Regions from separate parts of the Homo sapiens genome. Here all the other regions are linked to region 2. Evidence: fine-mapped expression QTL. A gene starts in region 2. Each other region holds a variant in brackets. All regions are shown on one strand. Distances are between the middles of the regions.

Region 1 (4,068 bases), 110 kb before region 2:
AGAACTCCTTCATCTCTTATCACTGGTTTAGCAACATGGACGTACACACCAGGAGTAGGGCCACATGAAGTCCTTCCTATATACTAAACTATCACATATTCAGCTCAGTTTGGTTGGCCAAATGGTGGCGTGCACCCTGGAATGGAAACCAGGACATCTGGGTTCTATACCAGGGAACTCAGGTGCATCAGCTCATTTAATCTTCTCAACAACCCAGTGATGTAATATTGTCTTCATTTAGCAATTGACAAAACTGAGTATGCCCAGTGGCACCTCTGATCCAAACCCAAGTCTACATGACTCTGAAATCTTTCCTCTACCCATTATTGCACACTCTCTCTTCCATCACAATTTCCAAACTAAAATTCGCTTAGGTAAAATGATGGGTCTTGGCTGGAAAATATCAAAAGTCAGGTCCAGTTATAACACTTCACGATTACACTATGACATTACAAAATTTAGTAAGTTTATTACAGAATATTCAATATTCATTCCATCAGCATCAACTGAGTGCTGAGATACAGGCTTGGTTTGAACTATTGAGGATCTGGTTACAGATTAGATATGACCACTGCCCCTGTTAGTCAGGGATCTGGCAGGAAACAGAGAGCATGTTCAAGATGGATAAGTTACGGAGAAGAAAGTAAAGGGAATACCTCAAAGGAATGGGCAGGAATAGAAAAGCTAATGAGAACAAGCATAGGACCCTGGGACTAATGACAGAGAGGAGCAGTTCACCTTTCTTCCTGAATGGGCAAGAGGAAGGGAAGGTTGCCAGGACCTAAAGTAGCTGCATGCAGAGACACCTGATACAAACTGAGCTCTTCAGACAACCCCTGGAGGGTTGGCATGAAGTCACACTTGCAGCCCCCTTTTCCTAAACTGTACCAGTTGGAGAATGTTAGAAGTTCGTGGGTTGGAAATCTAGAGGTAGCTGCAACTTTAAGAGAGATTTCAAAGCAAACGGTTGCCCTCAGGACTGCTTTTTCTGACCTCATATATTCAACAAACATTGATTAAATGTCTACTTTTGGTCCAAGCACTAGGGTTACAAGAAATAATAGATAAACCCAGAAAGTTGACAGGTAAAACACAGGCATTTAGAATACAGGATGAAAACTGCAATAGGCATAGTTCTGGAAGGTATGAACTGATCTGGAAAGAAAACATCCTGGGGAAGGATGCTAACACCTTGAGTCTTGAAGGACAAAGAAGATAATGTGACTTGAAAGGAGGGAAAAGTCCTCAAACCAAGAGAGCAAATGTGCAAAGGCCTGAAGAAGACAAACGGCACGGTTCCAGAGCCTGTGGGATCTCAGAGGGCAGATAGACTCAATAAATAGCTGTAACTGGCGTTGAAGGTAGAAATGTAGCATCATCCAGGAGAATGAGAAAGGTCACCAAGGAGCATGCAGAAAGAAAAAAAAGGAAAACAGCTACAGACTATGGGGCCTGAGGTATGCAGAAGAAGTCCACATTGTAATTCCTGGAATCTGTGACTATGTTACCTCACGTGGCAAAAGGGACTGAGCAGTTGATTAAATTAAGGATCTTGACATGAGAGATTATCCTGGATTATACAGATGGGTTGAATGTAATCTCAAGGATCTTTATCCATGAAAAGGGGAAACACTCTCTCCAGAAGGAGTGCACCCCTGC[A/G]CATACCTTAATTTTATCCCGGTGAAACCCATTTTCAGCTTCTGACCTCTGAACCATAAATTTTAAACCCCCATGACATGAGTTTACCTGTGTAACAAACCTTCACTTGTACCCCTGAACCAGAAATAAATGTTTTAAAATAAATAAATAAATAAATCTGTATTGCTTTAAACCACTACGTTTGTGGTAATTTGTTATGACAGCAATAGGAAGCTAATACAGTACCCATAGAACACTTTGTTGTATGTTAAAAGAATGTGATTGGCCCATTAGTAGTAACAGGGAAACATTTTTCAAGACACATTGTCATTGTTTTTAAGACAATTTGCAAAAATAAATTATGTAAGTTTTTTTAAACCTCCACAAAACTAAACTAAATACCCATGGATTTATACAGGTCTATAAATGCATGGGAAAAGATCTGGTACCATTTCTATGAAACCAAAACAGTGGTGACCTCTGGGGTAGAGGAAGGCTCTAAAGATTGCAGATACTAGAGGACTTCAAAAAGTTTACGGAAAGTGGAACTAAAAGATAAAAATAAAATATGTAAGTTTTATTTCACATCAAAGTCAAGACAATTTTGTAAGCTATGATTTCAGCCATTTAGTTCATCCCTAAAGAACTGAGGGTCCTGAAAATTTAGCCATGTCTATGCAACCTTTTTTAGATTATAAACTATCACATTAGTATTCTGAAGCAGAACGTGAAATTTATGTTTTTATGTGATTTTTATGTGTAATTATATGAAATATCATGTTTTATATTCCTTTAGAGGTGCTAGGGGTCTTTCTTACCAATTGTCACTGTTAACTTCTATATCCCAAGTGTCTAGTATAGTGCCAAGTACATAGTGGCATTCCGTAAGTATTTGCAGAAAGGAAGAGAATGTGAATATGTTACCTCATGTGGCAAAAGGGACTGATCAGTCGATTAAATTAAGGATCTTGACATGAGGTAACTGAAGAAAAGTGGGTGCCCCTTACAGATTTTTTTTAAGGTTAGACAGCAAAAAGAAGTCAGAAGACACCAAATAACACCTGTAAGGTGAATGCCTAATAATTTCCCACTGAAATGCTCCCAAAGTTTCCCTTGTTTGATGAAAGGAGTGAGCAGGAGCATTGTCATGGTGGAATAGGACTCTCTAGTAATGCTTTCCCAGACTTTTTTGTTTTTTTCTGCTCAAGCTTTAGTTAACTTTCTCAACACTCTCATAATAAGCAGATGTTATCATTTATTGGCCTTCCAGAAAAATCAGCAAGCAAAATGCCTTGACAATCCCCCAAAATTGTTACCATGACCTCTGCTCTTGGCTGGTTCCCTTTTGCTTTGACTGGGCCACTTCTATGTCTTAGTAACCATTGCTCTGATTATGTCTTGTCTTCAGGATAATATTGGTAAGCATTGTTTCATTTTCTGTTACAATTCTTCTTAAAAAATGCTTCAGGATCTTGATCCTACTTGTTTAAAATTTTCATTGAAAACTTTTTTTTGTCTGCAGATGATTTGGTGGACACAATGGTTTTGGAACTCAACAAGTGGAAAGTTTGTTAAACTTTAATTTTTCATTCAGAATTGTGTAAGCTGAACCATTTGAGATGTCTGTGATGTTGGCTCTTGTTTCTGCTGTTAATCATCAGTCCTCTTCAATTAAAGCACAAACAAGGTGAATTTTTTCCTTGCAAGTTGATGTGAATGGCCTGCTACTGCGGGCTTCATCTTCAACACTGGATTTATTCCTTGTTAAGACAAATTATTCATTTGTAAACTGCTGAATAATATGGGGCATTATCCTCATAAATTTTCATAAAGCATCAATGATTTTTATCAATTTTCCACCCTAGTTTCACCATAAATTTGATGTTTGTTCTTGCTTCAATTTTAGCAGAATTCATGTTGTTCTGATAAGGATTCTTTTCAAACTGATATATTGTCCTTCTTAGTGCCTTAAACTAGATTCTGTTCAGACACAGTATAACACATTAGTATGAGTTTATTTTGGTGCAAAAAAAAGTGAAAACCATGCATAGTTTGTTCATAATATGCATTTTCTATGAACATTTTGAAGACCCCTCATAGGTGTGTATGTAAAGGCTGAGATAACAAACTCAGGAGTGAACTTCACCAAAAGATAAACACAGTTACCTCTGCAATATAGAAAGGGATGAAGGGTGGTATTTTAGGGGAACTTTGGCTTTATCCAAAAACAATGAATGGTTTATAAAGAGATATATTCACACATTTATTATGTAAAAAATAGAAAGCCAAATATTGGTTAAAATCCTTTAAGTAGAAAATAAAATGACCTGAATATAAAACTGCAGGTAATATGAATTTATTACATTCCAGCAAAGGGAGAGGAATAGGCAAAAGGGAATGGAAGGACCAGTGAGGGGAAGAAAGAATTTG
Region 2 (4,068 bases):
GGCGCCCGCCATTACGCCCGGCTAATATTTGTATCTTTAGTAGACACGGGGTTTCACTATGTTGGCCAGGCTGGTCTGGAACTCCTGACCTCGTGATTCGCCCCCTTCGGCCTCCCAAACTGCTGGGATTACAGGCGTGAGCCACCGTGCCGGGCCCTCTCTCTTCTATTTAAAAGGATAGGCACAGCCTTTGGAACTGAATGTCTTTCCTCAGGCCTCATAATAGAAAATGAGGAAAGTCCATTCTGACAACTGGCTGCCTTAGGCAACAGAATTTGGGATTCCTACCCTTCCAGCTCCTGTTGAGTCAAAGGCAAAGGCAATAACCCAATAAATGTGGTGAGACAGTAAATGGAAACTGACATAAAAATAGCAATAAAAGCCTACTTCCTTCTTGACAATCAATACATAATGGAATGGGTATGATTTTACACCATAAAACATCAGAGAATAATAGAATATGGGCTGAAGAAAGCTCAGAAGCCACAACATTTTCCCCACCTTTTGATTTTCAAAACGATTCTTAAGATTTGTCGGGAGTATTTGTTTTCAATTGTTTCAGTGAGGCTCAGTTTTGACCACATGCAACCAAAATAGAGAATTTCATGGAGGATGGTCACAGGATTGGCTTAGAAAAATGTAATCCTGTGAGCTGTCCCCTTTCATAAATAATAAGGTTCCGACGGCTGCACCGAATGTTCCTCCTTTCAACGAGGTTGGGCCGAGGTTGGGCTCCCAGCTGCTGGGACATTTTTAGTCCATCTTGGACTCTCACCTCTGCCTCCTGCTCAGCTGTCAGAATGCCAGGCGGCTCTGCAGCCCAAAGCCCACTCCGTTTTAAACTTGCTCGTTTGCAATCACGTAACCCGCTACTGACGACAGAACCCTCAAGGCCCATTTATATGCGGTTCTCAAGTTTAGGTCTAGGGAAGTTTCCAGGAAGCTTAGTGTTCGGGGAGGAATTCGTTTTGCTTTTGCTAATCAAAGAGACACAAAAGCACAGCTGAGTCCCGAAGCTGGCACACGGGAAATCGAGGTACCACTGTCCCCTCACCGGAGCGCGCAACAATCACTTGGGGAGCGGGGAAAAGGTTTCCACCTTCCCCGAGCCTGGGGCACCTTCGCTCCCACCGCCCCAGCTGGTGGTGGTCTCGACACCACGCTCGTTGCGGGGTCACACGCCAGAGCTGGAAAGGGGAGGTCCAGCCCCAAGTAAAGCGACAAAGTAAGGACACAGTGGTGGCCAAGGGCTGTCTCCTAACCCCAGTCCCGAAAGACAGTGTGGAAAGTCCGCCGGCGCGCCAGCCCTTGAAACTCTGCCGGTCCGGCCGCGGCCCCTCCCCTGCGCGTCCCCACCTGTTGTGAAGCTGCCCAAGCTCCTTCTTGCCCAAATGCTTTGGAAACTGCCAAAGGACACTCAGAGGCCAGGGAATGTAACAGGCAAGCATAAATATGCAGAAGAGATGGAACCAAAATAGCGGGCAGGCAGGGCCGGCGCTCGTGGGGGTCGGTGATCTGGAGCCGGGCCCCCGCCGCCGCGGCCGCGCCAGCAGTGCCAAGACCTGGCGGGCGGCGCCGGCGCACTCCGGGCACCGAGTCTGCAAAAGAGGCCCTGAGCGGACCGCCGGACACCTCGCAGACTGCGGGCAGCGGTGGTGGCGGCCGCCTCTCCGGGGCTCCACGGCCGACCCGCCGCCCGCCGCCGCCATCCCCGGCCCGCTCCTGCCGGGTCCCCGACTCGAGCCCCGGAGGCGCCCGCTCTGCGGGACCGCGCAGCCCGGCTGCATGGAGCCCGGCGCGGTGCCCCGGCCGGCCGAGCCAGCCACGGCGCGAGAAACCGTCGCCCGCCACGGCGAGGGCAGGAAGAAGATGGCGGCTACCGTGGCGGCGGCGGCGGCGGCAGCGGCCTCACACGCGTCGCTGACGCCAATGGCTCGCGCCGGTCGGCGGGCCGCGGATGGCGGCGGCGGCGGCGGCGGCTCGGGCTCCGGCGAGGGGCGGGGCGAGGCGGGGAGGGGGCCGGCCGGAGGCAGAGGCTGGAGGGAGGCGGCGGGGACAGTTTGTTGTGCTCGGAACATGGCGGGCGTCGGCGACGCGGCCGCTCCGGGAGAAGGCGGCGGTGGCGGCGTGGACGGCCCGCAGCGGGACGGCCGCGGCGAGGCGGAGCAGCCGGGCGGCAGCGGCGGACAGGGGCCCCCGCCGGCGCCTCAGCTCACAGAGACGCTGGGCTTCTACGAGAGCGACCGGCGGCGGGAGAGGCGCCGGGGCCGCACAGGTGAGGCGGGCGGCGCTAGGCCGTGGCGGGCTCCGAGGGGCGGACTGGGGACCGAGGGCGGCGGGGGCGCCTTGGAACCCCGGCCCCCGAGCCGCGCGGCTGCCGTTGCCTCCCGGGGCTCCCCAGGCTGTGGGCGCGCGGAGCCGCCGAGGCTGCCGAGGCTCCGCGGCCGTTGACAGTTCCTCGGGCGGGTTGCGCGCGCAGCCCCGAGGCCCCCGCGGCCGCGCCAGGCCAGGTGTGCCCTAGAAGGGGTCTGCGGCCGGGAAAGTTCTGTCCGGGTCCTTGCATCGCCCTCGGAAGGTCTTAGGTTAGCGGGCATCTCCCACGTCTCGGAGCCCAAACGTGAGAAGCACACGGCTGATTTCTTAATTATATTCATGCCAAGGTGACTTTTTTTGTTCTGTATTTTAAGCAAACTTGAGCCATAGAAACCTGTTAACTTGCCCTGCAAGTAGATTTTTCACAGACAGCTGACGGTGTGGTAGTGACCATGAAGTTCAGTAGTTTTGCCCAGTACAGAAATATTTAACACTCCATAAAATGTTGCATCTGAACTTTTCCTGAACTGAAACTTATGCCAAAAAAATTACTAGATGAGAAAATGTGTACTTATGAATCCTACATTCAATGACCAGTTTTAAACGTATTGTTACAATGTTACAGTTTCTATAAGCTGTAGGTTTTTATTCTCATTTTAAAAGAATTTTTAAAACTTGCATTTGTATTCATATTGCAGTTACAGATTAGTTTTAAATGAAAAAAGGTTTTGAGATGGATGTCTTCTTGAATATAGAGTGAACCCAACGTTTTAATTCTCAAGCTGTAAACAGCAACTGAACCATAACTCCATTAAATTTCTTCCAACTAAAAAATTACTTCTGTTGTCCAAAAGGGGCTGTGTTAGCCGTTATTTCCTGAAGTTCATGCAAATAACTAAGTTGTGAGGCTGATTACATCATTGATTGTACTTGAGTACTGAAATTTTAAAACTACTTAAGGGGCATAAAGTTGATCAGATGCGATTCTAATTGATTTGCTGATTCCCAGAACTGGACGTAGGTTCTATTTGAAGCAGTCTATATTTTTGGAAAATTACAGACGGTCTTGTTTGGTCTTTTTCAATTAACCACTTAAAAATTCTCAACCATACTTTATTTGGTTTAGTTCTCAGTTAAACATTTGCTTTCAAGAGTATTTACTTTCTTCATTGGCAGGATCTCAGTAAGACAAAATAGCAAATCTCTCAACTGTCTGTTTACTTACTTAGACTTGAATATTAAAAGCACTCTGTTGTAAATAGAGATAGATGTAGCCAGGCTTCACTATACTTTCTTTAAAACATTTCTCAGTTGCAGGAAAGCCACCATTTTAAAAGCCTTTTTTTGTTGTTTGCGTGGAGAGGAAATGAAGTTGTTTGAAGCCTATTGATGAGCACAGATCTTGAGCTTGCAGTATCACTTAACACTTCTTCCCTGGCTTTTTCTGGGACTGGATACCTGGACTTCCATGGACTTCATTATACCACGTATCCATTCTTCACCAACATGGTTCACCATGTTTAAGGCTGGATTTTTTTTAACCCATAGTTGCAGGAAGTCATTATCAGGGAGATGCCTCCAGGTTTAGCTGTTGGGGTAGTCCTTGTTCTTTCCCCAGTTCCATTGATTTTGTGTGAGGAGATGTCAGTGGCCACTCCTGCTTTACCAAGTCACACTAGCCTTGGCGATCAGGATTTAGGTGAGAATTCCAAATTCCAGGAGTATTTCAGCTGGAGCCACTGGCCAGTGTTCTCT
Region 3 (4,068 bases), 65 kb before region 2:
CGATTTTACAGAGAACATCTAAGATAAACTTTGGCTACTGTACACTTGTGTCTACCTATTTTACAATTTTTCCTAAAACCACCTTGTTCCCAAGAAATGGATTCTTCACTTCATATATTTTCAAGCTCACAGGCCATTTTGCCTCTATTTTACAGCGTAAGAATTTTGAAATGAGGAAACATCAGTGAAATCCATGTTTAAGGCACTTTTATTCTCATGCCACTATTTCCCTGCAATGGTGACCTTTAAATTTAGCCTGAGTATAAGTGGGGTTGTCAGAACATCAGGTTACATTATGTTATTCAGCTATTTGTGCCTTTTAAAGACGATGTAAGTTCCAACATAGACCGCACAGCGGGAAAGTTACCCTGATGATATTCTGGAAACTGCCGCAGCCAGGATCACATCCGGAAGTGGGTCAGTATTCAAGAAGGCTCATGCTTCTTGGAAGTCACTTTTACTGGAAACAGGCCCACATTTATCCTTCCAGAAAATAAGTAACCTGTGGCTCGTGCATGGCCTTTCTTCTTCAGGCAGATTGGAGAGAGGATTGTGTTTGAAAGAAAAGAATGGAAATGTGCCTGCAGCACTTATTTTTCTCCTTCAGGGTGGCGTGTGGAGCTGTGTGCTTGGACCTGCAGTGAACGGTGTAGTCACTGATTTTTCCACCTAATCTGGGGTTCAGAGGACTCCGGGCTGGTACTGGTCCTCCACAATTCCTCCTAGATGTAAACCAGCCCCCCGACCTTTTTTGCAGCTGTTTGACTAGCTGAGCCCACTTCCTCATTGATAAACAGCTTTGATAAATAGGTTGAACTAAACAGCTCCCAGAGACACTTCCAGCTCTGGTCATGCAATTGATTTCTTCAGGATGCTTTCAGAGACACATCAGGGCAAGAAGCATGGGGCATGGGGTGAACGGAGGAGGGAGAGGGGATCCAGCTTTGAATGGTAAGGCAGGGCTTCTCCACTTCTTGTTGCATTGCCATGAAACAATGACCTCTCGCTGTGCTCCCAGTCCCAAAGAATAAGCTGTAAGCTGATGTATGAGAAGAAAGATCCGAAGGAGATGCATAGACACATAGAAATCACAAATAATAATAATAATAATAAAACCTAATACAATGCCTAACTTGCTCCTTAGCTCCTTAGAAAACTGCAATGTGGCACTAGACAAAAGACACCTTCCTGGGCTTTACCCCAACCCAGTCCAGTTTAAATGACAATGGACCTGCACACTTTAATAGTTTTTAAAGCCCATTGCCTATAGACAGGCAGGATAATCTAGTAACAATGAGAAACATCATCAGGCACTAAGTTCTAGCACTGTTCTGATTGCTGTAAAGGTATTAGGTAGAGTCATATGCAGCGGCTGTTTTTCTAGGCCAAAAATGGATAAACACCAGCAATTTCATATTTCTATCTAAGATTAACTCTTTTGATTTTTACAACAATCTTCTAAACACTGTTGTTGTCTTTTGTTATGAGCTCTAGATGGGTTTTTAACTCAGCTCTGCTACTCTGGTCAAATGTGCCTTCGTTTTCTCCCATGTAAAATGAGACTAATAATACTGCTTGCTTCATAGGGTTATCACGAGGACTAAATGAGTGAATAAATGTAACAGTGCCTGACACATAAGTGCTAAATAAACATCGGTCATTATCATTAGCTTTACGTAAAGTGACGTTAAGGTCTCCTTCATTCTAGAAATACTTTGTGCAGTGGCATTTCATGTTTTTTTTTTTTTTTTT[C/TTC]CTACCAGGCACTTATTTCTTCTTCTCTTCTAAAATAGCATCCCAATTTCCCTTTCAGGGAACTTGTCCCCCTGGCTGACTATCAGCCAGGGATCCTTGCCTCCCCTCACTATGGCGTATACATGTACCCTGAGGTTAGCCAGCCTCTCTCCTGTGTCCTGTATTTTCCAAAGCCACATTATTCTGCTCTTCCTGTGATTCTGAAGCTCTTCTGTGTCCTTCCAATAAATTCCTTTTTTATTGCCCATGAACAATGGGCACGTGGAGGAAATACGGAAGGTAATTTAGCAGATTGTTGGCAAGTTAAGTTAGCAAGATAAGTGGTTTCTATTGTTGCAACTAAATATCTTTAAAATATATATCATTGGAAATAGACATTGTAATGTTCTTTTTATGAATAATGAAACCAGCTAACATTTACTGATTCTCTGTCTAGACTTTTACTATGTGGTTATGTTTAACACACTTCTGCGACAGTAAGCGCCATTAACCCCATTTTGCAGAGAAGAAAATTGAAGACTTAGATTCCTCTGCCAGCTTGTCCTGCTTGTGTGTCCTTGAGCAAGTCTCTGAACATATCCAAGGTCTCAGTGTCCTGATATGTGAAGTGGGGTTGGTGACCTTTCCCACGCACAGGGTGGTTTTGAGAATCAAGCAAGATGATGAACGTATAAAAGCTCTTTGTAAACTATATAGTTACATGCCATATACGGGTAAGATTGCATTATGATTCTCTTTGACAAAAGGACACATTTTAACTCCTGTGTCTTGGTGCCTAATTTAAGCCATTTGTTGTTCTTTCTGCATAATAATAATAATAACAAATAAATAATGCATGTTTCAAAGTGAAAGCCCTAGCTAACACACTCCCCAGAATGAGATTCTTTTTCTTGGAAGCAACACTACACCTATGTGGATTTCCTGGGTGCTTTATGTTCTTGCCAGGCTAATCATGGCTGAAACTTGTGTTCTCTGCTTTTCTGATCAAACTTAGAGTCCTTCTCTCTCTTTTCCCTTTATTTCCCTCCTGTCTTTCCCAATCTCGAAGCTCCCCAAGGACCAATAAATTCCGGCATTGACTACACACAGCCTTCTAAGGGTTTTCAGTATATTAGAAATAAGATCCAACTTCCTGTATTGAAACCAGAATTTAAATGAAGGTTTTCCAAACTCTACTGAGGATTATATAAAGAGTAAGCAGGAATCATAAAAATTAGGAATATTATTTTCAAATGCCAGGGTTTTTAATAGACAAATAAGGTATGGGATCAGGCTGCAGTATATTAGCAAAAGATAGAGAAAAACGAATGAACGAGAAACATTTCACTGTGAAAACCAGATGAATATTCTTATTGGCCCACAGTGCCATCTTGTGGATCATTTTTAAATAGGGCTTTGTTTTCAGTTGTGATTGCATTTGTTTGACTGTTCCTAATCATGTAAAGCATCCATTAAAGTCTGCAAATGATTTCCAGGTAACCCAAGAGAACATAGATGAACACACCTGGTGGAACTCATCTGTTTATTGATATCTCATCCTCCTTAGGCACAGTTGGCCTGTCATTCCATGCTTTAAATAACTTCTCTCTTTGCCCTCTGTAATAGTAGATGTTCATGGTTCTCTCTGGCCATTTTCTTCCAGCCTTCACCAAATCTACTTTATCTATGTAACTCCTAAGGTATGTTCTTTGCCTTCTCTTTCTAGATGTAGTGGTTATGCACCTTGTCACAGGTTTTGTAACCCATAGAAAACCAATGGTCACCCATGGTCCACGGACATTCTTTCCAGAAAAAGACACTCAGATGACTGTGCCCCTCCTGGCACACACACTCTGATAGAAACAGAACACACACTCTTACACACTTGCACACACCTACACTCACATACATGCTCACACATTTCAGCCAACAATTTCAGGGGGGTTCACAAAGTTCCTGGTTCCATGTTTAGAACCTTTGCTTGACAGTACTTCCTTCAGTGATGTTATGGAATCCTAGACTTGTAACTATCACACCTATGAAGAGGTATCTCAGATGCCAGGTTCTTTTCTATATCCAGTCCTTTGTTTCCAACCGCCCTCACTATTTCTGATGTAAACATCCTGCCCTTCCCTATGGCTAACGCTGTAGCCATGTTGATCTCCTCTCAAGAAACACTTCTGGGCACGTTCAAATTCTGTTCACTCTCCAAGCCCCGGTTCATATACTACCATCTCTGGGAAGTCAATCTCTAATCAGAGAGAATTAAACTTTCCCTTTGTGATCTCTTAGACTATTTTTTTAAGTTTTCACATTAAATATTTCAGACTTTCTACT
Region 4 (4,068 bases), 89 kb before region 2:
AGGAAGTAGAAAACAATGATTTAGCTCTGGGGTTGGAGGGAGTAGAGAAAAGCACTCAAACGCATATTAAACCCTTCCCTTCAGAGAAGTACTCAGTCAGTCAAGATTCTCAAGCACCATAAAAACAATTCTAAATGATACTTCATTTTTAAAAAGTGTCTTTCAAAAATCCCAAAAGACTGATGGAAAAAAGATTAACAGCTATCATTTGATGGCTGTGAAATGGTTGCTTCAATCTTGGGAAAAACAGGTTGGATTTCGAGGGAGATGTTATGAATAACATGGTGCTTGGAAAAAAATATATACATATAAATGTATAAAGTATATTCTGTATTCATAGCATATTCATATATAAATTTATAAAAGTATATATGAATATAATATTTATATATTTTGATATATTCATATATTAACACATGTATAAATATATATATGTATGAATGAATATATGTTTATATATAAATGAAAACTATGTGAAAGACTGCTATTATATACATCAAATTCTGCATGGGCCTGCTGGTGCAGTCCAGTAACAGCAAACACCTGCTCTTAACTGGTAGCTGACCGTGGGCCAACTGAGAAGACAGTGGCAGGAACTTGCTGTTGCCTGTGGGTTGGTTTTCCATTCACACATACTCAAGACTGAACTTGTTCATAGGTCAGTGCCCTTCACCTGTGCATTCTCTTCTTTGCTATACTCTCTGATCTTCCTCTTTCTCCTCTGCCCCCCGCAGATTTATTCCCCAGGGCCCCAACTTCATACTGCCTGAGTCCAGTATGGTCAAGGCAAAGATCCACCCCTCCAGAGAAAGCAATAATGACTCCTACTAGAATCTTCCAGGGCCTTTGGAGAAGAGCAACTTCAAGACAAATTTTAAGAGTGCTAATACTGTGTCCATTTTAGTAAATACCTTGGATGCATTGTTACTCTAAAAACCATTCTCTGTTCCGTGGAGGATGAGACCTGGAAAGAAGAAAGGGATGATGATGAGGAACTGAGAACCCTAGCCTGCCTCCTATGCTTGTCTGACCCTCTGAGGCGGCCATGGGAAGCTTTTCCCTAAAGCCTTTGGCACTTCAGTTCTGTCAATTGCTGCCCCTTTGGTGTCTTTTCAGAATTTGTGTCACCACACTCTGCTGGTGTGTCTGCCAGAAGCCTGACCATGCTTAGGATTCGGCCTAAGGATTCAGTGAATCTAACAGCTCACACCTGGATGGAGAAGGGAGGAGAAGATTGGGACATTAGTACCAGAATCCAAGAGGGTTAGTCTTACGCAAGTCTCAGAAATTGGCACTCCCTCGATATGAAGCCAACCTCTTTCTCCCAGGCCCAATCAACAGAAAAAGGATGCAAGTGGCAGAAAAGTAAATTATTGAGACTCTGTCTTTTAAACCACATCATCAATTTGAAAATAAAGCTTTTTATTTTTAGGATGCCAGCAGAATTGTTATGGCTCTGCCCCTGCGGTCTCAATAGTGGCCTTGGGCTCTAAAACCTTGACCTTGGAAAGAAAACATTTACATTGTAAATGCACTGGCAGTATGAGCACTGTTCTATGGTGAAGTACCCAACAGAGGCTAAAAA[T/C]TCAGAAGCGGCTTTTCCCTTTCTTCTGAAAGGCCTAATCCGCGGGGCTTTCACAGTGACAAAATCAAACTCTTAGCAGTAATTGTGCATTGGTTCTAGCCGTGAACTTGCATAAAATCTGAAATTTCACGCCACCTATCCTGTTGCAGGGAGTTTACCACTGATCATCAGGAAATGGAGCTTCTGGAGAGGCTTGAAGGAAATTAGACTGTGCAGGCCCTTGGGCAAGCATACTTGTGAACAAAATGCCTTTACAGTCATCCCTTCTTCCAAAACACAGGCAGCTTCACGCTTTGTTGAGCTGGTACTTGAGTCCTGCAGAGGCACACAGGTTCTGATGCGATGGCTTCGAGAAAACAGACCGTGTCTACTTTAGATATCTAAAGTCAGCCTACTACACCCAGACATTCTCTTATCCATCTCCAGTTAGGCTGGAAAAAGGAAGACTCAGAGTGGCTTGATGGCTAATTCCATGTGCTCTGATGGAGTGTCAGGAAGAAGGACAAGGTCCATTATGACCAGTGGGCAAAATGATAGCCAGTGGGTGGAAGCAATGGGAGGAAGCTTCTAGCCCATCCAGCAGGGGTTCTTTCTCCTCATTAGGATGGTCTGAAGCTGGAATGAGCCAGCTCTCAAGCTCACAATTGGCTTATCACTGAAGATGTCCAGAGGGGGGCCTCCACTGACAACCCTTGACACTAATTCTTTGCATGGTCTTGGCCCAGCATCACAGAGTGACGCAGACTGGCCTCACAGGAGCAGCTCTGGAAAATGGAGAGACATCAAGGGGTCAAGATGAGATCATTCACCTTTCTGGGGTCTCTGACTCCTTAGGAAGTTCTCCTTAAGGGTCAGGACTGCTCCAAGTGTTTTATAGTTATTAACTCATTAAAGCTGCACACCAATCCTAAGATCAAAGGTGGGTGCTCTCATCTTTTCCTACTTTACAGATGAGGAAACCAGGGCTCAGGGGTTACCTAACCCCTCCCAGATCGCAGAGCAAGCAAGTGGCAGAGGAGAAGTCCCTGGCTAAACACCACAGTCCACTCTCATAGCCTCTATACTGCTCTGTCTCAGAATGCTCTCTGCAGGCCCCCTGATGTCCTGTAGTGTGACCATCACTATCTGCTTTGTCTTCCTTCCTTACCAGTAGCTGTTCCGCTGATGGACTGGGTCTCTTCTGACATCGATTTTGCAAAGGCAATATCCCCTACACAGACTGTGAAAAACCCCAAGGTTATCCTCTTTGGTTAGTGATAGACCTTGAATTCATTTTATTTTTCAGACACAGTTCTAGATACACAGCCAGCATCTGCCACCAATGGCACTCAAAGCTGATGGAATGAATGATTTCACATCAGCAGTCACACAAATTATCACCACTGAATTGCATGGATGTTATCAAATCAGAAAGAAATGAGGCCAAAGCAAATATCACACATATGTAGTGCTTTTGCTTCTTAAATTTAAGTTTTATAAGTAATTTTGGCTCTGTGTTAAAAACAAAAAAATAATAATATAATAGCTAACACTTATATCATGTTATGTGCCAGACCCTATCCTAAGCTCTTTTCTCTTATTAACTAATTTAGTCCTCACAAATACGCTGAGATGTTAGGCAGCATTACAATCCCCATTTTAAAGAGGAGGGAACCAAAATACAAAGAACTGAAGTTTAGGTTTCAGTACCTGAGCTAGTAACCAGACTAGTGTGCCAAGTGCCAGAGGAAGGTGGCCTAAACCAAAGTAATTTGGAAGAGGTTCAGAGAAAAGGATTAATTCAAGAGACATCACACTAAATAAGTAAATTGCAATAAAGCTGGAAATGGGAGGCAAAGAAAGAGACACCATCGAAGACAGCTGCCAAGCTTCCAACGAACATGTCTTCTTGTCAAAACTGCAAAGATTCCACCTCTATGTCTTTGTTCAGGCTCTTCCCTTTGTTTGCAACGCCTTTCCATGCCCTTCCATGATTGTTCTGCAAAGCCTCTTATTAACTGCTCCTCACCTCCTGCCTCTGCATCCCTATATCTCATTGTTAGTTGGCATACAGTTCCTGGCCCTCACCCATCTTCCTCCATGTTTTAAGCTCCTCAAAGGTAAAGACATAGCACAGTGATGAGTGGGGAGCCCCAAACTCTAGCTATTTAACATCAGTTTTGTGATTCTGTCTTGCTATACAGTCATGCCTGCATTACTTTTCACTTAATTTTTAAAATAACTTGGATGACCCAATAGGTGCAGTAAACCACCATGGCACAGATTTACCTATGTAACAAACCTGCACTTCCTGCACATGTACCCCAGAACTTAAAATAAAAATAACTTGCCTATAGGATTGCAAAGGGTATACAATAAGAAATAGAAATATAAAATAGAATAAAATAATAACTTGCTTATTTTAGGAGAGTTTTAGATTCATGGAAAATTTGTGAAGATAGTACAGAGAGTTCCCACATAGCCTCTACAAGTTTTCCATATTA
Region 5 (4,068 bases), 85 kb after region 2:
GGCATATCCCCAGGAGTGGAATTGCTGAGTCACATGGTAACTCTGTCTAACTTTCTAAGGACCTGCCAATCTGTTTTGTAAAGTAGCTGTACCAGAAGCCAGCAGACTATGAGGGTTCCAATATCTCCCACCCTTACCAACCCTGCTATTATCTGTCTTTTTTATGACAGCCATCCTAGTGGGTGTGGTGGCTTGTTTTCATACAAGGTCCATTTCTCTGTTTTACAATGATGTGTATTACTTTAGTAATCGTGAGGGGTGTGTTATTAAAACAAACCATAAAAGTCACAAAGTCCTCTGCTGGGATTTCCATTAGCAAAAGTGCACAGAAATGCAGTTCCAGTTTGGGAAGTTGGGTGGGCATCTGTGGGAGAACAGGGACATGGGGGGAAGTCTTTGCAGCCTGCCTCTATTGCTGTTCTCTGAGGCTCTGACCTCACTCCACCGTTTCCCCAACCACACCTGGCTGCCCTCTATGGGCATGGCGATGGCAGCCTCCTCCACAGCTCATTCTTCATGTGCAGTTCTTTCTCCAGGCTGTGTAGTGTGGTTGGAAGCCTCCTGGCCTGCAGAGTTAGGTAGACCTGGGTGTGAACCCTGCTGTGGGACCTCTGCTAGTGCATAACCTCTTGAGCTTTGCCATCCTCTATAAAACTGAGACACATCTCAGCCTCATGGCGTTGCCGATGGCTAAATGCAAAACAGCTGTCCAGGGTGCTCACAAGAGTTGTGTCCTCTGCCCCCCTTTTCTGCACTTCTGCTCTGTGCATGTGGGGATTGGCCCTCTCTGCCTGCATTTCAGGTTTACTTTCTGGTTTGGGTCTCACTTCACTCTGCTCCTTGGCTAGTGGGCAACAGAAAGCACTACACGATTAGAAGACCTCTAAGGGTATTACAGGAAGATGCTGGAAAGAGCACTGAGCTTTGTTAGGTCCTCTTATAGGCAATGTCAGCCCCCAGCAAGGACCAAACCTTTATCAAAAGGTAAGGTTCAGAACTACGCACCTCAAATATGCTCCAGGTCACCAGTTTAACTTAGTGCATCCAGTATTGCTGGAGTGTACGTGTGATTAGTACTGTGCTCCCGGAGAGTCTCAAACTCCAGATGTCTCAGAGATAGTCAAATGACAGGGGACTTTTTTTTCTTTTTAAGTGCAAACCTAATAATGTGATCATTGTCTGTGTAGCCCAAGTTACAGAACTGAAAGCAATGCTAAGAATTGTAGCAGTCGCTATTAATTGAGGATTTAATGCCTTTAACTCTACTAGTGGTTTACAGACACTATCTTAATCCTCTGGCACTCATGAGCTTCCTTGTAGCCCCATTTCCTTGCCTTCTCAAATGTTGCAGAAGCAATTCCTTGCCCAGTTTGTGTTTTTATTCTGTATTTTTGATGCTTTGACATCTTGGGGCTTTGCTGACCCTGGAGGGACCACCCCTTACTGGACTAGCGAATTCCTAGGAATAGCAAATGTCTGGTGTGTGAGCCAATGTGCCTTTCATATGCAAACCAACCAATCCAGAGCCATACCCCAACCACCTCCTATATCTGTTCTCATACTCCAGGCCACTATCTGCCTGCTCTAATCACCCCAGGGCTGGACAACCGGGGTCAGCCCTAGGGAAAGACAATTAGGGACACACAACCAGGGGCAGCCCCTGTGCCCAAGAGCCTGCTAAGATTATTCAAATTAGACAATCCTAAAGCTGCTGACACTACCTCACCTGTTCCTCCCTGTGGAAACCTCAGTAAAGGACTAACATGGGTGCTTCTCCATGTGGCCCTGCACGCCCTGCTTCTAGGGACCTGTGAGTAGCAAACTTCTTCATGACAGTCACTTTCATGTCTCACCATAACAGCTTAAAACAAATTTGGGATGCCTTTTAAACACTCCTAGAGACCCAGTCTAGAGCCACCCAACTTCCTGACAGCTTTCAGATGATTTCTGGAAGCACCTAATTAACTGTATTAATTCTCTGTATACCTAAAACCCACTAGGGGACTTTCTGTTTCCTGCCATTAACTCTGATGATAGAGTAACTTACTCTGGACTGTGGAGCTGACCATGGACAAAGACACACACTGTTCACCTTGAGCAACCAAGCCCTCTACCAGGAAGCTCTACTCTATTTACACTGGTATTTGGATCCTAATCTACAGTCCCAAAGGCTTGCCTCTCTGAAAGCATTTCCCCAACCACAGAATGTTGCTCTGTCCATTATA[T/G]GGCCTTTGTTGGCCAGCTTCCAGGTAAAGCTGTTGCCTGAGTAAGTGTTTTGAAATTCCTTGAGGTCTGGATCATTTCCCTGTAGTGACCTGGGCTCCAGGTTTGGTTTCAGTCCCTGGGGGACAAGAATCCAAGACTTCAGTGAAGCTGAACTGAGCCTTCTTTCCATTTATGGAGAAGCCCAGGAGATGCCAGGGAATCTGAGAAAACTTTCTTCTGCCTCCAACATTTTCAGAATAGTGCTTTGGCTCTCCTTGAGGCTTAGAGGAAAGTTTTGGGCCAGAGCCCATCAGATATTCCTACCTATATGTTTCCTGTGGACTCTTTGGGGAAACTTCTCACAGTCTAGGTAGATCCTATAGCATGTTCTAGTAGTAAAAAGATTGAAGTCCAATTTAAGCCACTCAGATCTTCTGTTTCGCTTTTTTTTTTTTTTTTTTCCATCTCACGTCCCATTCAAAGCAGTTGCCTTTTCCCCAGCTTAGGCAAGGACAGCCCCAGGAATAGGACCCGGTGTGTCCCTCATATGCCCTGTTGCACCTGGAGCTGGGGGAAGGGGTGGGTGGCGGAGGGGAGATGTGAACTCAAGGCTGCCTCACCTGACTCTTGGAGTATCTGGCCATGGGTCTTCTATGTGGCAGATGCCCAAAGGTTGGCCCTTATATTAGTTTGCTAGGGTTGCCATAGCAGCATATCTCAAACTGGGTGTCCTACATCAACAGAAATTTATTCTCTCACAGTTCTGAAAGCTAGAAGTCCAAAATCAAGGTGTTGGCAGGACCAGCCTCCCTCTGAAACCCCTGGGGCAGGGTCATATTTTGCCTTTTCCAGCTTCTGGCAGCCCCCGAAGCACTATCCTTAGATAGTGATACCATGACTCCAATCTTTGCATCTATTCAAATGGTGCTCTCTTCTCTGTGTCTGTTTCCAAATTTCCCTTTTCTGATAAGTACAACAGTCATATTGGATTAAGGGCCCCCCCTGGTCCACTACAACCTCATTCTAACTGATTACATCAGCCCCAACCCCATTCCCAAATAAGGTCACCTTCACAGGTTCTAGGGGTGAGGAATTCATTCAACACATCTTTTTGAGGGACACAGTTCAACCCATAACAGCCCTCTTTCTTTTCTCTCTTCCAAGAGGTACCTTTTGTGGGTTCTTCAGAGATATCCACTAGCCTCACTTCCACCCCTGCCCCCACCTGGGGCCTGCTGGCATGATAGATGCACCCTCTGTTCTGACCTCTCCCAGCTCCTTCTCATCTCTTCATCTCCCGCCCCAGGGGCCCGCCCTGGAGTTCTGCCAGGCAGCCTGCTTGGGCAGGGTTGTTTCCAGGGTGGCTCTAGTCCGGCCCCTTCCTTGGTGTTCCCTCTGCCCAGCCAGTCTCTGGGGGTGCAGGCTGCTCCCCAGGCTGCCTGACCATCCTCCTCATGCATCCTGGACATCTTCAGGAAAAAAGCTGACTCTAGTGTGTGACCTCCAAAGTTCAGGAGGCCAAGGTGTCACCCAGCATTGTCACTGCACTCTGCTCTGGCCTTGTAGTGGCCCTGGGTGCACAGTTTAGCAGCTTAGGAGACATTCAGCACGTAGTCAGAAACCAGACTGGCCCATGGACACCCCTTCCCCTCCCCAGAGATTCTCCTGCCCCTTCCCCTCATTTAGGATGAGGAGCCCTGGCTTTTCTCTTTCCTCTCAGAAAAGAAGGAGAAACAAGTTAGGCACAATGGTGTGGGTCTGTAGCCCCAGCTCCTCAAGAGGCTGAGCTGCGAGGATCCCTCGGGCCCAGGAGCTCAAGGCTGCAGTGAGCTATGATTGTGCCACTGCATTCCAGCCTGGGTG
Region 6 (4,068 bases), 43 kb after region 2:
ACTCCAGCCTGGGTGACTAGAGTGAAACGCTGTCTCAAAAAAAAAAAAAAATTACGATGATTCCAAAGGACTTTTATTTATATGGATTATGTCTCTCCCTATTCACCATATTCGAAATGAAAACTGAGAAATTTTAATAAAAATATTACATGCTTACAAAAATAACATTTCAATAAAAAAGATATTTTATAAAACAAAATTTAGTGAGAAGAGTTTCTCAACAAGTAATGCTGGAACAGTTGGATAAAGGTTAAAAAAAAAAGAACTTTGGCCCCTTCCCTGCCCAAGAAAATTAATTCATAGTGGTTCATAACCCTAAACATAAATGCTAAAGTTATAAAACTTCTAGAACAAAATATAGGAGAAAACATTCACAACCTTGGTCTAGGCAAACATTTTTGGAGACCACACAAAAAGTACTAAATGTAAAACAAAAGAGAGAAACTGGACTTCTTCAAAATTAAAATATGTGATCATAAAACTTAAAAAGTGAAAAGGCCAGCCACAGTACTAAGAGAAAAGATTTGAGATGCATATATCTGACGATAGATTTTGTTTGTTTGTTTTCTGAATATATAACAAACTATACCAATCAATAATGAAAGGACAATCTAGTTTTAAAATGGGGAAAAGGCTTGAACAGACATTTCACAAAAGAAAATCTATAAATGTCCAATAAGGTCATGAAAAGCTGCTCGGCATTATTAGGGAAAATGTCACTGGAGAAAGACAAAGCCATAATGAGATAGCACTGCACACCCTCCAGAGTGACTGCTCTTGTAGCCTGACAGTGCCACAAGTTAGGATATGGATTAACTGGCACTCAGGCATCGATGGCGTGAGTGTAAAGTATTACAACTGCTGTTTTTGGCCATTTCTTTTACAGTTAAATGTTCACCTGCCCTGTAATTCAGGAAATATATTTCCTCAGTAGGACTTGTTGCAAGAATTATTATGGCAGCTTTGTTCATACTAGCCAAAAACTGGAAACAACCCAAATAGCTATCAGTAGGAAAATAAACAAACTGTATATCCATACCATAGAATACTACTTAGCAATTAAAGATAAAAGAATGAACTCCTAATATTGTCAGCTATGTAGGTCTCAGAAGCATTATGTTGAGCAGAAAAGCCAGACACAAAAGTGTACATGATGTATTATTTCATTTATATGAAGTTTATGATCAGACAAAATTCGTTTATGATGATAGGAATAAGAGGTTGTTTGTTGGGCATTTGGATTGACTAAGGGGACTCAAAGGAGCTTTCTGGATGATGGAACTTCTTTCTGTATTAAGGGCTTGGTGTCTCAAGTTATGCATTGATCAGAACTCATCACATAATGTACTTAAGATCTGTGCATTTCACTGTATGTAAATTTTACCTGTATATTAGACAAGGAAAATAATGGCATATGAATATGTTAAACAAGTTATAGGAGATTTGAAAACTAAGCAAGGAACAAAAAGAACAAATGGAAAACTTGAACATAAAGCCTAGATGATTCTATGAGGCCATGCTGGACCTGACTCTCAAGGCTCTGAGAAGCAGTTCATATTCTTGCTGCTTATTAATGTTGCTCACCTTTCAAGTGCAGACTGCCAAGTGTCATGAATTAGAAATGAAAGAGGAAGGAGGGAAGGTACTAAATTATAGAATACTTTGCTTCAGTAGTTAACCATAGAGTAAATTGATTCAACTGTAAGAATTTCGTTTGTTGTGGAAACCATGTTTTTTTTAAATTAATTCATATTAGTAACCTCCTTTGGGTAAGTGCTCTTTATAGAGCCTTAAACTAGACACGCAGATCTTAAGTTTTAAAGGTTTTCAATCCTTGTGTATAAAAGCTTCAAAATTATGAGGGGGAAATTGTGAATGTTTTTAACCTTATGGCCAGCATGTTGATGTAATTAATACCCCTTTTCATTTTTATAAACGGGTTCCCCAGAATTCCAACCTCTTAGCTTAGAAAGATTAGGTATTCAATATTTGAGTTTTAAGAAAACTCTGGGAAAAAAAATGATATAATGATCAGGTATGCATATCAGTCTACAAGAAATTTGGACTTTATTTTGGCTTAAAATGGTTACTACTTAGCACCAAAAAAAAAA[T/AT]TACTTTTTGCTGTAAGCAAAGTAGCTCATGTTACAATGCAAGGTGGTCCGCATTGTACCCTTTAAGAGTTTTATAAGAAATTAACTTTACCCTAAGGCAGATTTTAAGACCCTTCTCAAGTAAGAAAAAAAATATTCTAGGCAACGTTCAGCTATTAAAATGGAAAGATCAGGAGTCACCAAGAGGTGCTTTTTACTCTTTATATGAATATGTTGCCTTCTTCATATGCTTCAGTAGTAGCTACTTAATGAGAGCCAGTCAGGAGGGATACTCATATCGGCTATTTTTTTCTTATGAATTTTCCTATGAATTTTTTCTCCATCAGAATTTGAGTTGCCAGATACGTAGTGTAAGGTTCAGTCCTTCATGCTGGTTTAATATAGAAGACTTCATGGAGAAATCTGAGAGTAACTTTACCCCTTTCAGTGGTAGCTCACTGTATATTTTCTTTGGAGGAATTGCCTGAGGACATGTGAAAAGTAGTTTAGTTACCAAAACCAGATTTTTAACAAATTATCCTTTTCTTCACTTCATTTTAACATAAGCGTTAGCTGAATGTGGAACCCCAGCCTTTCTGGTTTGCATTCTTGAGATGAAGAATTTTAGGTAGTTTTTTACGCATTGGTAATGTGAACTGTGCATTTAGAAAGGTCCTTCAGGAGTTAGGTTGTCTGGAGTAAGCTTATAGCTCACTTAGCACTCTTAGAAGCCTGCATATCTGCAATAAATGTGGATGTTTGTTGGAAATAGTCACTCATTTTATATTTAAAATGTGACTGCAAGTATGTTAAAGTATATCCCTGTTAGTGGTAATATAGCAAGGAAAAAGCTTAATAACCTGAATGTCAGAAATATTTTAAAAGCATTAATACCAATGTTTTTAAGCTTCTTAATAAAGGTTAGGAGAAAACATTCCTAGAAATTTTAATTTTTAATCAATGTAAGAGTTCAGTTCTAATCCGAACCCTGACTATTCTGAAGATGAGATGGTATAAATATGTTGCTGATTGCATTATTTATCTAATATATGTTTGATTATCAGTATCAGACTCTGTTATTCTCATAAAAATTTTATTTCTTTTTATATCTTACTTTGGAGAAACTTAAAATTTGGGTATTTTTTAACTCAAATTTTAAAAGTCAAATCTTGATTTTATAATGTCTATGTAAAACATTTAAATGTAAAAGTTGTGAAAGTGTAAGAATAAAACTTCCAAAAAATCTTCACATAACAGCCTCATTTTTATAGTTAGATATAGTTTTGTATCTTTATCTTATCAAATAAAGATAGAGTTAATTTTTATGGTGTCACTTTTTAATCTTTAAGCTTGCCATCCTTCACATCCTTCATCTTATAAAATCGCATTCATTTACCAAATTTATCCATTTTTATTAATCTCTATCATATTTTGAAATAGTCTGCTTTTCTAAAATTTGTTTTGGGCCAGGCACAGTGGCTCACGCCTGTAATCCCAACACTTTGGGAGGCCAAGATGGGCGGATCACCTGAGATCAGGAGTTGGAGACCAGCTTGGCCAACATGGTGAAACCCTGTCTCTGCTAAAAATATAAAAATTAGCCGGGCATGGTGGCACATGCCTGTAATCCCAGCTACTCCGGAGGCTGAGACAGGAGAATTGCTTGAACCCGGGAGGTGGAGGCTGCATCCAGCCTGGGAGACAAAGCAAGACTCTTGTCTCAAAAAAATAAAAAAATCTTAAAAAATAAAATCTGTTTTGCCTTAAATACACCTTTAATGAGATAAGTTTTTCCCCCTTTCATCAGTATCCTTAGAAATGAAATTATTGCAGATTTTCTCTATACTTGCAGCTGCCATATGTCCAAAAATCAAATACAATTAATTTAAATTCGATGGTAGTTTTGCTTTGTTAGAGTTTACAAAAGTTACTTTGGCTCATTTCAGATAGTGTTTTAAATTTCTCAAGGCCATTTATT
Region 7 (4,068 bases), 96 kb after region 2:
TGGTTACAGAAATGCAAGGCTAGTTCAACATTTAAAAATCAGTGGATGTAATTTTTAGCAGATGGAATAAGAAAACCCATATAGTCACATCATGATGGAAATTCTCAAATATTTAGGATTAGAAAAGAACTTCCTTAACACAGTAAAGGTAATATTTTCTTTAAAAATCCTACAGCTAACAGCATACTATGGTAAAAGACTGAATGGTTTCTCTTTAAGATGGAAAATAAGACAAAGACAACTTCTCTTCACTCCTATGTCATACTGGAAGACCTAGCAATGGGACAAGAAAAGGAAAGAAAAGGCATACAGATTGGAAAGGAAGAAAGAAAATACTTCCTGAATATTTTATAAAGTGCCAGGCACAATGGCTCATGCCTGTAATCCCAACACTTTGGGAGGCCGAGGCGGGCAGATCACGTGAGGTCAGGAGTTTGAGACCAGCCTGGCCAACATGGTGAAACCCCATCTCTAATAAAAATACAAAAATTAGCCAGGTGTAGTGGCAGGCACCTATAATCCCAGCTACTCGGGAAGCTGAGGCACAAGAATCCCTTGAACCTGGGAGTCAGAGGTTGCAGTGAGCCGAGATCGCGCTATTGCACTCCAGCCTTGGGCGACAAAGCGAGACTCTGTCACAAAAAAAAGAAAAAGAAAAAAAAAAAATGTGCTCTTAAGATTGTTGCCCTTTCTTGCAGTTTTAAATTTCCTATACTTTTGCATGGACTTGACACTTTATACGATGCTTTGAGACAAATGTGTCCTTAAATTTTGGATCTAGAAATGTGGTAATAAAGCTAGGTAATTGGTTTTCAAGACAGTAAGATCCCACCAAAATTTCTAGTGCATCTCAGTTTTCATTGCATGCACACAGATTTCAGCCTTTCCCTGGAGTAGAAGTATAAGAGGAATGTTTATAATAGCTCAAAGGTGCCAGATATGACATTGAGGTGGGCATTTGGCTATTGAGCCTTCCAAAGGCCAAGGTTAAATGGAACTGTATATCTGGAAAAACACTGAGACCAAAGTCAAACTTCTATGAACCCCTAGTATACGCCTGGCTATTCCCAAGTTCTCTAACCTATGAGAAACCCTTCCTTTAAACAACCAGTGGGCCAGACATGGTGGTTCATGCCTATAACCCCAGCACTTTGGGAGGCCAAGGTGGACGGATCATTTGAGGTCAGGAGTTCGAGACCAGCCTGACCAATATGGTGAAACCCCATCGCTACTAAAAATACAAAAAAATTTAGCTGGGCATGGTAGCGCATGCCTGTAGTCCTAGCTACTTGAGAAGCTGAGGCAGGAGAATTGCTTGAACCTGGGAGGCGGTTCAAGCTGAGTACTCCACTCAGCAGAGGTTGCAGTAAGCCACTGTACTCCAGCCTGGGCGACAGAGCAAGACTCTGTCTCAAAAACAAAACAAAACAAAACAAAACAAAACAAAACAAAACGGAACAAAACAAAACAAAAAAACAACTAGTGTAGGCCCAAGCCCCAGATCATTTATTTGATTAGCAGAAAATACAGAGTTTTAACAGAGTCTCTCCGAGGGGTCCCAGAGGGACACCAACATGTTCCAAAATATGTCTTTCATGTGTATTGTCACCTCAATAACAACCTCCCTTCAGGCCTTGCTCACTCTCTGCAGATGTTCTCTCACTACTTCACAGCAGAAGCTTTCCCATGCCTGGATCCTGCCTCCCTAATCCCCAGACC[T/A]CAGTGGACTCAAGACTGGAAGAGTTAATAAAATATCCCTGTAGGCAATATCCTCAGAAGGTAATTAAAAATAGAAAAAGAAAACAAACCACTTAAACAGGACACAAAGTATCATGGCTCCCAGATCCAGAGGCTGAGTCCCGCCTTGAGGGACCAATCCCTCTCAGATGGGCTCTCCTTAGCCCCACATCTACCTCTGACCTACTTGGTCTCCAAACAAGATGACAGTCTTTTGCCATTTCTCCTTGCCAGATTCAGATATTTTTAGTCCTGGACCCCAAAGAGACAGATCAAACCTGATCCTCAAAGCAATGCAACTCTCTATCAATGAACACATCCACCTGTATCATTTTGCAGCCTATGGTTAGCAAAACTTCATTCAGAATTTCTTCAGTTCAGAAGAGGTCTTGGTCTTTGTGTTAGATTATAGGAGTCTTTTTACGGTGTCTTCACATAATCAATGTGTCATCCGGGCATGGTGGCTCATGCTTGTAATCCCAGTACTTTGGGAGGCTGAGACAAGAGGATCCCTTGAGCCCAGAAGTTTGAGATCAGCCTGGGCAAGATGGTAAGATCCTGTTTCTACAAAAAAGTTAAAAACATTAGCTGGGCTTGACAACATGCTGACAGTAGCTGTGGTCCCAGCTATTCAGGAGGCTGAGATGGAAGGATCAGTTGAGCCTGGGAGATTGAGGCTGCAGTGAGCTGTGATCATGCCATTGCACTCCAGCCTGGGAGACAGAGTGAGACCCTGTCTCAAAAACAGCAACAACAACAACAAAAATCAATGTATCGTCTTTGCCCAAAGATAAAGTCTGCCTTATCTGCCTGTATGTAAAAATACTAATGTGTTTCCAATTCTCTGTATTGAGGTTTCGAAAACATTAGGTTCAATATGAGAACATCTTATTACAAATATATATCATGGCAGACACAGCTAGTGGCCTTCTCAGCATCTTTTCTCCTTTTCTTTCCTTCTCAATATCTGTTTAAGGTATTTGCAGTGAAACTCTTTAACTGATGTGTGTGTGTGTGTGTGTGTGTGTGTGAATGTAGCAAAACTGTGATCACATACATTTCTATTTTAGGAGAATGTGATGAAGTGGTTCTTTCAGCTATAAGGCTGCCTCTCCTAGGACACCAGGCACACAGAAAGGCCAGCTGTTCAGATAAGACCTCCTAATCAAAACAGACTCAGCCTTATCAGTGACATTCCCTGAGCCAGGCCCACAGCAGGGCAACAAATATTTGTTCAGTAAATGAATACATGAAAGAAATGTTTCCTGTTGTCAGTGTCCCTGTAATCTGGTGGAGGAGGTAATAATGTACATTTACAAGCTGTAGGATCAAATAAGTGCTACAGCCACGGGGATCCCATTTTCTGGCTCAGACCCTGCAATAAGAATTCTGATAAAGTATTTTTCTTCTGATTTTAAAATATATTTACATGAAAATATCCCAACTTACGCACATCCAACTGCTTTCTATAACCTCCCCCTCTTCCACCTTAATGTAAGCCACGTAATCTCATGCCTGTCTATCAAGGGCCTTTCCAAATCATTCACACTGTGTCCAATCCATTCTTACCCTCTGTAAATGGTTCAAGGGGTTTTGTATGTGGACACTGGGCAGGTGAAAATACTCTCCTCTGGAGTCTGAATCCTATAGGACGAGATAGCAGCCTTGGGTTGCTAATGGTCAGGTTCTCTACTTCTTGAAGAAAGCTGGTCGGTAGTAGAGAAGAATAAAATTAACAAAGCCCTAGAAAAATAACTTGAGTCACTGGATGCAGCTGTGCCAGAGGCTTGCCCCTATTCTTTCTGGATACCTAAGTCAGCTTCTCTTTTGTGTTTAAATTTCTTTGGAGTTAGTTATCTGTCACTTGCAAGAAGAAGTATTCTGACAAATGCAATTCTCTAAGTCTTAGTTTGCTCTTCTGCAAAATAGGCTACCTCCTAGTTCTGTTGTGAGGATCAAGTGAACTAATATTTGTATCAGAGCTTTGTAAATATAAAGTAAAAATATTCTTTGTCACATACCCACCAAAAGCACTGATTGGATAGGATGCATTTGGATGCAAGTAATAAAGCATGCAACTAAAATTAGTTTGAGCCACAGCTACTCAAAGTTTGAGGCCTGGACCAGCACCAGCGTCGTGGGTCACGAATAACAGATGTTTCAAGGTGTTTCAGGTGAGTTTTTTTGTTGGCTCAGAAAGGTCTAGGAAGGGGATTGGGTGGGCAGGGGTTCACTCCTCTCAGAGGCCGCAGGAAACATCACATGTTTCACAGGTCTACCTGGTGTGGGAGCTCCAAATCTTCTCCATTGTCAAGGCCATACCCATAACAC

Alleles and levels. Positions count from the first base shown, and alleles are read on the strand shown. Sizes are in standard deviations (SD) of each study's normalised expression. Not every link is listed here.
For the expression in B cells of the gene that starts at base 1,871 in region 2, allele TTC in region 3 goes with a lower level than allele C (moderate effect, 0.54 SD a copy in Fairfax 2012).

What was found. PIP is the estimated chance that this variant, and not a neighbour inherited with it, causes the effect.
Region 1: its variant is fine-mapped to the expression of TAPT1-AS1 in whole blood (INTERVAL, PIP above 0.99).
Region 3: its variant is fine-mapped to the expression of TAPT1-AS1 in B cells (Fairfax 2012, PIP 0.95).
Region 4: its variant is fine-mapped to the expression of TAPT1-AS1 in whole blood (TOPMed, PIP above 0.99).
Region 5: its variant is fine-mapped to the expression of TAPT1-AS1 in whole blood (TOPMed, PIP above 0.99).
Region 6: its variant is fine-mapped to the expression of TAPT1-AS1 in whole blood (TOPMed, PIP above 0.99).
Region 7: its variant is fine-mapped to the expression of TAPT1-AS1 in blood mononuclear cells (TOPMed, PIP above 0.99).

Annotation. Positions count from the first base shown.
Region 1 is chr4:16,330,321-16,334,388 of GRCh38, reverse strand. All of the region lies in intron 4 of LOC124900674 (a long non-coding RNA gene), which reads right to left. Among named protein-coding and RNA genes, the nearest start is that of TAPT1-AS1, 110 kb to the right of the region's middle. The variant A/G (reference allele first, on the strand shown) is at 1,660.
Region 2 is chr4:16,224,466-16,228,533 of GRCh38, reverse strand. TAPT1-AS1 (TAPT1 antisense RNA 1) reads right to left here and starts at 1,871. Exons shown (of 3, transcript NR_027697.1): 1 at 1,357-1,871. TAPT1 (transmembrane anterior posterior transformation 1) reads left to right here and starts at 2,063. Exons shown (of 14, transcript NM_153365.3): 1 at 2,063-2,275. The coding sequence starts at 2,077. RefSeq lists an enhancer at 951-1,010 and silencers at 1,521-1,720, 1,781-1,850, 1,861-1,960, 1,971-2,020, 2,131-2,510.
Region 3 is chr4:16,289,138-16,293,205 of GRCh38, reverse strand. The region is part of intron 2 of LOC124900674 (a long non-coding RNA gene); the gene reads right to left. Among named protein-coding and RNA genes, the nearest start is that of TAPT1-AS1, 65 kb to the right of the region's middle. The variant C/TTC (reference allele first, on the strand shown) is at 1,753.
Region 4 is chr4:16,313,326-16,317,393 of GRCh38, reverse strand. The region is part of intron 2 of LOC124900674 (a long non-coding RNA gene); the gene reads right to left. Among named protein-coding and RNA genes, the nearest start is that of TAPT1-AS1, 89 kb to the right of the region's middle. The variant T/C (reference allele first, on the strand shown) is at 1,586.
Region 5 is chr4:16,139,219-16,143,286 of GRCh38, reverse strand. No RefSeq gene overlaps it. Among named protein-coding and RNA genes, the nearest start is that of PROM1, 57 kb to the right of the region's middle. The variant T/G (reference allele first, on the strand shown) is at 2,226.
Region 6 is chr4:16,181,354-16,185,421 of GRCh38, reverse strand. All of the region lies in intron 7 of TAPT1 (transmembrane anterior posterior transformation 1), which reads left to right. Among named protein-coding and RNA genes, the nearest start is that of TAPT1, 43 kb to the left of the region's middle. The variant T/AT (reference allele first, on the strand shown) is at 2,112.
Region 7 is chr4:16,128,393-16,132,460 of GRCh38, reverse strand. No RefSeq gene overlaps it. Among named protein-coding and RNA genes, the nearest start is that of PROM1, 46 kb to the right of the region's middle. The variant T/A (reference allele first, on the strand shown) is at 1,720.